Homo sapiens: one gene and its partner. The protein of the gene in region 1 purifies or fractionates together with the protein of each later gene. This does not show direct contact. Each region holds a gene or a part of one and is shown on either strand. Other genes may lie near its edges. The genes, in order: LYSMD4 and MCOLN1.

What was found.
Region 2: the proteins of LYSMD4 (region 1) and MCOLN1 fractionate together in Homo sapiens (co-fractionation; one large-scale study listed by BioGRID). This does not show direct contact.

What each region holds. Positions count from the first base shown.
Region 1 is NC_000015.10:99,726,844-99,730,690, forward strand, and holds the end of LYSMD4 (lysM and putative peptidoglycan-binding domain-containing protein 4), read right to left. Parts: intron 2,889-3,847; coding exon 2,280-2,888; 3' UTR 562-2,279; downstream 1-561.
Region 2 is NC_000019.10:7,528,908-7,532,721, forward strand, and holds part of MCOLN1 (mucolipin-1), read left to right. Parts: coding exon 1-63; intron 64-193; coding exon 194-295; intron 296-682; coding exon 683-805; intron 806-1,378; coding exon 1,379-1,594; intron 1,595-3,814. UniProt on the Homo sapiens protein: Nonselective cation channel probably playing a role in the regulation of membrane trafficking events and of metal homeostasis. Acts as a Ca(2+)-permeable cation channel with inwardly rectifying activity.

The DNA of each region.
Region 1 (3,847 bases):
ATATACACCTAATAAAGCAATATTAAAGCCTGTATACAGATCAATCAGTGATCAATCATCCCTAGAGCACTGGTCACCACTTTGTCCTGCACCTGTCTGAGTAACCTCGGGCACAGTACAAGCCCCAAGTTGGTGGCCAGGTGCAGGGAACAGGCACAGTCCTCACTCCTGACAGACACCTCCATCTTCTCCAGCAGCATCCCACATCTTTTAACGCTAAATTATCAATCCCCAAATTTTAAAAGGTTGAGGCAGGTGCAGTGGCTCACGTCTGTAATCCTAGCACTTAGGGAGGCTGAGGTGGGCAGATTATCTGAGGTCAGGAGTTCGAAATCAGCCTGGCCAACATGGCTAAACCCCATCTCTACTAAAAATGCAAAAATCAGCCAGGCATGGTGATGTGTGATAGCAATCCCAGCTACTCAGGAGGCTGAGGCAGGAGAATCGCTTGAACCCGGGAGGTGGAGGTTGCAGTGAGCCCAGATCGCACCACTGCACTCCAGCCTGGGGGAAGGAGTGAGACTGTCTCCAAAAAAAAATTAAATAAAAAGGGGGAATCAATTTTCCTCCACAGAAGAAATAATTTTATTCCATTTGAGAAAAGTAAAGGATACATTCTTTGTCTGACAAAAGTGATTTTGTCATGGAACTCCAAGGCCTGCCTGGTGAAGTGACAGTGACAGATGTTAGAGGAACCTGTGGCCCTCAGTGACACAGAGAGCACAGACATTTGGCTGGGAAAGCACTTGCATGATCGAAACATTTCCTATTGCAGAGATTCAGAAGTTCTTTTTATCCTGAAGATCATTCTGGTTTCTAATTTAAGATTGAAGATGATTTAATTTGCTAATGGAACCCAGGCCAGCTGTTTTTTCACACAACTGAAAGGAGAGAAATCGGAAATCACTCTTACATGGTGAGACCTTTGATACTTTTCTCCAGGCCTCATGAGTCAAAGGCCATCACTGTCCCTCCACCGAGCATCTGGGCAGTGTCTGCCTCCTGTCCAGAACTCTTGGAGGCCGGGCCAGCAGCCATCTCAGCCCCTCCCACCCCTCCATGCCACAGGGCAGCACCAACTCCCAAGTAGTAGCAGGCTCTGTCCCGCAGTCCCCAGCCCATCCACAGCACCACTGCTGCCTTGGCAGCGAGAAGGGCTGGGAAAACTGCAAGCCCCTTCCTCCCTCAGGTGTTCTGATCGCCTTTTACAACAAGGGTCGCCTCTAGCCCCTCCATCAAGTCTTTGGTCCTGGAACATTGTGAGTTACATTGCATATAGTGTTATTCTAAGGGCATCACCCAGAGAAAAAGGACGAAGCGGCCTTCTCACTCTGGAGCTCCGAAGAACTGAGCCAGGGAAGCAGCAGGGGGAGCGCCCTGTGTTAGGTGTGCACAGGGGCTGCGGCTCTCAGCACAGGCCTGACGACCGCCCAGCTTCAGACGCCAACCATAGTGAGGCCTCAGTGACAGGCACTCATCCTCCCCTCCAAACACTGGCCAGCAAGAGCTCCTTCCAAGGAGGACAAGTGGGAGAATCCAGAGAGCCACGCTGTGGGACGGCTCCTGCGGAACTGGGCGCAGCCTGTGTGTGCTTGGCCTGGGAGATGCCTGTGTGTCACACTAAGCCACTCTAAAAGGACAGGAGTAGGACTGCCCTTTATTCAACAGTGCCGCAGTTTGGGTCCAGGGCTTTTTCAACTCTAGAAATGGCATTGCCTCAAAAAGGCTAACTGAGGGGGCCAATATGAAGTAGGCTTGTTACAACTGTAACTGTCACTCTCTAAAACAGGGTGGCATGCCAAGCCTATTCCACAGCACCTTTGCCAGGCAGACAGAGAACACTCCTTCTCAGAGCCAATCCCCGCTCCACAGGAAGTGAGGATACAGCAAGAGCCAGGCAAGCCGCGCAGATGCCACTGGCTCTCACGCTGCAGGTCCCTCGACAGAGGCCATAAATCTTTCCCTCCGAGCACGTCCAACTTGGGGGTCCTCACAGTGCTGCTATGAACTGGCCAGTCCACTAAATGTCACAGGGAAATGGCTCTCTTGCTGCACCTCTCTGGATAGGGGCCGAGGTCGCTGCTGTTTTAGATCCTGCCAGCTTAGACTGGGTAAGGCCATGCCCAGGGCCAGTGCAATTGGGAATACTGCAGTGACTTCTGAAAAGTGTCCATCCTTCCCCGGAAGCAAAATGCAGCACCCCTAGGACATCGCCAGTGACAGCTGAGGCACATCAACAGCCAATTGCTAAAGCTGGGCCTAGTCTTTAAAAACAAAGCTTAGCTCCCCGCTTGGGTGGTCTGACTGAACTGGCTGTCTGCAGAAGTGACGGCTGGCACTGCAACTGCTAGTCTGGGGGCTTGCCCTGGAACTGTACCCATTGCCATCGAGCCATTGGGGATGACAGTTGTGTTCAAGCTATTAGGGGTCTCACCACTAGCTTGTATTTTAAAGTAGACCAAATAAAAGACAGGCAAGACAATACCAATCAGCAGCATGATGAAAACAGCATTCCACCACTGAATGCCACAATCTGCACCATCCATAGGCGTCTTCGGAGGTGCCGGGAGCAGTGGCTGATGGGAGGTGTCCATGCAGTAACTTTCATGTAGAAAGATTTCTGACTGCACTGCACGCTCAATATCCTGGTCAATCCCCTTAAAGAAGCCCATCAGTTGGCCGGCCTGGGCACCGGTGCCCGCGCCTGCTCTGTCTGCCTCTGGCAGTTCCACGGTCACTGTGGTCTCGGAAGACGGGCTCAGAAGGGGTTTCAGTTCTTTGTGGGTCTCCATCAGGATCCCATGGTTTCTCACTGGAATCTTAACAGATTTCAAAGCATATAAGTCTTGTTCTCTGATGAAGTTGTTGACTTTCTTGATATCTGCAACCTAGGAAGGCACGAAGATAAACATCATAAAATATGCGGAGCTCCTTAAAAATAACTTTCCAAAAAGTGGCTCTTAATCTTTCTGGGTGATGATTCAAGCCCACTTCACTGACGAATCTGATGAAGACTGGAAAACTGCAGCTGTACACAAAGTTAGTTTAGGCTGAAATTTTGTTTTTTTGGCTTTCACTCAACCTCAATATATAGTTTAGTAATCAGATATTCCTAAAGATTTACAGGTTTGAACAATTTAAGATCAGTTTTGAAAAACAGATCTTTCTTAAACTGTTTAAAGTGTGACTGCAACAAATCGCTTTGGGCGAAACCACCATGGCACTGAAAGGAATGTTGCAGCCTTTTCCACCTTTCACTTTTGAGGCAATAGTGCCCCCATCTGCCTGCCTTCCCCCTCATGCCAGAACTCAGTGGCTGCCAGATGTTAGCATTCACCAAACACACAGCCTCAGCCAGCTCTGCAGACACACTCAAAATCCAGTTTACCTGTAATAAAGTTGACAGATATGCCCTCGGCATTTTCTTTCCCAGAAACACTGTGGGGCATGTAAACTTATTAAATAAAAGTGACTTACAGTTACTGTACTTAACTGTCAGGAAAAAGGAATAATGCTGTGAGTTTTATCAAGTAACAAAGTTCATGACAAACTCCTCTCATAATCAAACACGAAGATTTAAGAAGCAGGGAGAATGTAAGTCAAAGGGTAACCCCTCCCTCAAACTAATGTTTGAAAACTTTCCAAAAGCATCAGAGATGAACTCCAAACTTTTAACACTTAAGTCCACTTAAACTAGAAAGTGAATACAGCCAACAGATCTCAATCAAATCAATCATTTCCATTATTATTCAGCAACTGCTGTTATTGTAACTGATTTGGGGTAGGGGACATTTTTAATTCACTATGTCCTGAATCTAATGCATGAGACCCTTGAGATCTTTCTGTC
Region 2 (3,814 bases), on another chromosome or scaffold:
CTCGTCACCAGCGATGTGCTCACCATCTCGGGCACCATCATGAAGATCGGCATCGAGGCCAAGGTGCGTCCTGCCAACACCCTGGGCCCCAGGTCCCATCCCTGCTGTCAGTGCCTATCCGGGGCCATATCCTCCCCCAGGCCCCCCAAAGGAAGGGCTGGGCCAGATAGGTTGACGCAGCTCCCACCCGCAGAACTTGGCGAGCTACGACGTCTGCAGCATCCTCCTGGGCACCTCGACGCTGCTGGTGTGGGTGGGCGTGATCCGCTACCTGACCTTCTTCCACAACTACAATGTGAGTTTTGCACATGCAGCTGGGCCTTCCACATGGTTACTCCACACCCTCCAAATAAATCCCTACACACGCAGCCCTCACCAGCCCCGGCCAATGGCCCCTTGCAAGCCTCCTCCTCCTACCTGCCCACACCAGATATATCTGTCACTGCACCTGCGCGGGGCCCCGGGAGCCTGCTCCTTTGTGCCCACCCAGCTGAGTCTAGCCGTGCGTTGCCCTCGGACCCCCTCAGACGTGGCCACGCCCCCTCTAGGCACCCACTGGCTCCCATGACCACACCGGCTGTGCCCTCGGCAAGGCCCCGCCCCTCCCACCCCCATCTGGGTGCCCACAGCTGACCTGAGTTGTGGCCACACCCTCAACGAGGCTCCCTCTGCCCCAACCCAGATCCTCATCGCCACACTGCGGGTGGCCCTGCCCAGCGTCATGCGCTTCTGCTGCTGCGTGGCTGTCATCTACCTGGGCTACTGCTTCTGTGGCTGGATCGTGCTGGGGCCCTATCATGTGAAGGTACATCTAACCCCTGATGTCCCTGACATTGACCCTGTGACCTTGTCATTGACACTGTGACCCCCAGATGACCCCTTGGTGACTGCTGGGAGTCTGTCCACTGTCCCCTGTGGTCCTTGGTGACCCTGACACTGACCCTGTGCCATTATTGTTGTCACAGTTGTTGATGACCCTATTTCGACCTGAATTACTCCCCTCCTGCTCTATCTACCCAGACCCTAGGTCGGCCCTGTGGCCCTGTCATTGACCCGTGGTCCCGGCCATTCACATGGGACCCCAGCCTGGGACCTGGCCATTCACATAGTGACCCCAGCCTGGGACCCGGCCATTCACGTGGGACCCCAGCCTGGGTCCCGGCCATTCACGTGGGACCCCAGCCTGGGACCCGGCCATTCACAGGGGCCCTAGCCTGGAACCCGACCATTCACATGGTGACCGCAGCCCGGGACCCGGCCATTCATGTGGGGCCCCAGCCACCAGCTCCTAGCCATTTGCATGGGACCCCAGCCTGACCCCAGCCCCCGGTTCCTGGCCATGCCTTGGCTCCCTCTGACCCCGCCGCCCCTCTGGCAGTTCCGCTCACTCTCCATGGTGTCTGAGTGCCTGTTCTCGCTCATCAATGGGGACGACATGTTTGTGACGTTCGCCGCCATGCAGGCGCAGCAGGGCCGCAGCAGCCTGGTGTGGCTCTTCTCCCAGCTCTACCTTTACTCCTTCATCAGCCTCTTCATCTACATGGTGCTCAGCCTCTTCATCGCGCTCATCACCGGCGCCTACGACACCATCAAGGTCAGCCGCATGCACCCAGCCCTGAGCTCGGGCTCTGGGTGCCCTGGAGTCTGCCATGAGGGGGTCTTGGGGACACCGCAGGGTGAACAGAGAAGACCCAGGAGAGAATATGGGAGACTCTATGAAACCAAAAAGAGGGTGGTTCAGAACTGGGGGGCGCAGGGGGATGTCAAGGTGGGCTTGGGCCAGGAGGGGGCCTGAGTCAGTCTTTGCCAACAGGGCAACCGAGTCATAGAGTTTATTTATTTATTTGTTTATTTGAGACGGAGTCTTGCTCTGTCACCCAGGGTGGAGTGCAGTGGTGCGATCTTGACTCACTGCAACCTCCACCTCCCGGGTTCAAGCAATTCTGTCTCAGCCTCCTGAGTAGCTGGGACTACAGGCACACGCCACCACGTCCAGCTAATTTTTGTATTTTTAGTAGAGATGGCATTTCACCGCATTGGTCAGGCTGGTCTCAAACTCCTGGCCTCAGGAGATCTACTGCCTTGGCCTCCCAAAGTGTTGGGATTACAGGCGTGAGCCACCACGCCCGGCCTATTTTATTTTATTATTAAAGTATTGTTCTTTATTTTATTAGAGACAAGGGTCTCACTGTGTTACCCAGGCTGGTTTCAAACTCCTGAGGTCAAGTGATCCTCCCACTTTGGCCTCCCAAAGTGCTGGGATTACAGGCGTAAGCCACCACACCCAGCCTATTATTATTATTTTTTTTTTGAAATGGAATCTTACCCTGTGGCCCAGGCTGGAGTGCAATGGCATGATCTCGGCTCACTGCAACCTCCACCTTCTGAGTTGAAGCGATCCTTGTGCCTCAGCCTCCTGAGTAGCTGGGATTACTTGCACGTGCCACCACACCTGGCTAATTTTTGTATTTTTACTAGAGATGGGGTTTCACCACGTTGGCCAGGCTGGTCTCGAACTCCTGACCTCAGGTGATCCACCTGCCTTGGCCTCCCAAGGTGCTGGGATTTCAGGCATGAGCCACTGAACCCAGCTAAGTCATACAGTTTCAATGACCTTGTCATTGACCCTGGGACGTTGCCATTAACATGGTGATCCTCAGCTGGCCCCATTCCTATGGCGGACCTCTAAAAACCCAACCCTGACCCCAGCCCCCAGCCATGCCCCCGACTCCCTCTGACCCTGCCCAAGGTTAGCTTCTTTATTTATTTATTTTTTTTGAGACGGAGTCTCGCTGTGTCACCCAGGCTGGAGTGCAGTGGTGCAATCTCGGCTCACTGCAACCTCTGCCTCCCGGGTTCAAGCGATTCTCCTGCCTCAGCCTACTGAGTAGCTGGGATTATAGGCACACGCCACCATGCCTGGCTAATTTTTGTATTTTTAGTAGAGATGGGGTTTCACCATGTTGACCAGGCTGGTCTCAAACTCCTGACCTTGTGATCCGCCCACCTCAGGCTCCCAAAGTGCTGGGATTACGGGCGTGAGCCACTGTGCCCGGCCCAGGTTAGCTTCTGAGCAGTAAAACTGGGCTCAACCCAGGGCTGTCTGATTCCAGAAGCCGTGCTCCTAACCCCTCTGTCCTCAGTTTAGTAGGGTGGCTGGGAACAGTGGTTTCCCTGCAAGCTGCAAGGGTCAGGGGACAGAGCAGGATGCGGAAGTGGCAGGTAGATAGGATTCTTTCAGCAGATATATCTAAGGGCCAAGATCTGTGCTGGGTTCTGGGCATGGAGGAAAATCAGGTGTGCATGATCCGTCCAAGGCCTGTGGGCAAGGATGGCACAGGAACAGACATCCCATGACCAATGACCTACTTGTAACAGGTATGAAGGAAGAGTGGAAGGTTGCAGAGGGACCCCTGCTTTAGATTGGTATGACAGGAGATCCAGGAGAGCTTCTAGAATGTTCTATCCATCACTAGTCTCTAGCCCTATGCAGCTATTTAAATTTTGATTTTAATTCCGGCTGGGCACGGTGACTCACGCCTGTAATCCCAGCCCTTTGGGAGGCCGAGGGGGGGTGGGGGTGGATCACCTGAGGTTAGGAGTTCGAGACCAGCCTGGCCAACATGGCAAAACCCCATCTCTACTAAAAATACAAAAAATTAGCGGACGTGGTGGCAGGCACCTGTAATCCCAGCTACTCCGGAGGCTGAGGCAGTAGAATTGCTTGAACCTGGGACGTAGAGGTTGCAGTGAGCCGAGATCAAGCCACTGCACTCCAACGTGGGCGAGAGACCGAGACTCTGCTTCAAAGACA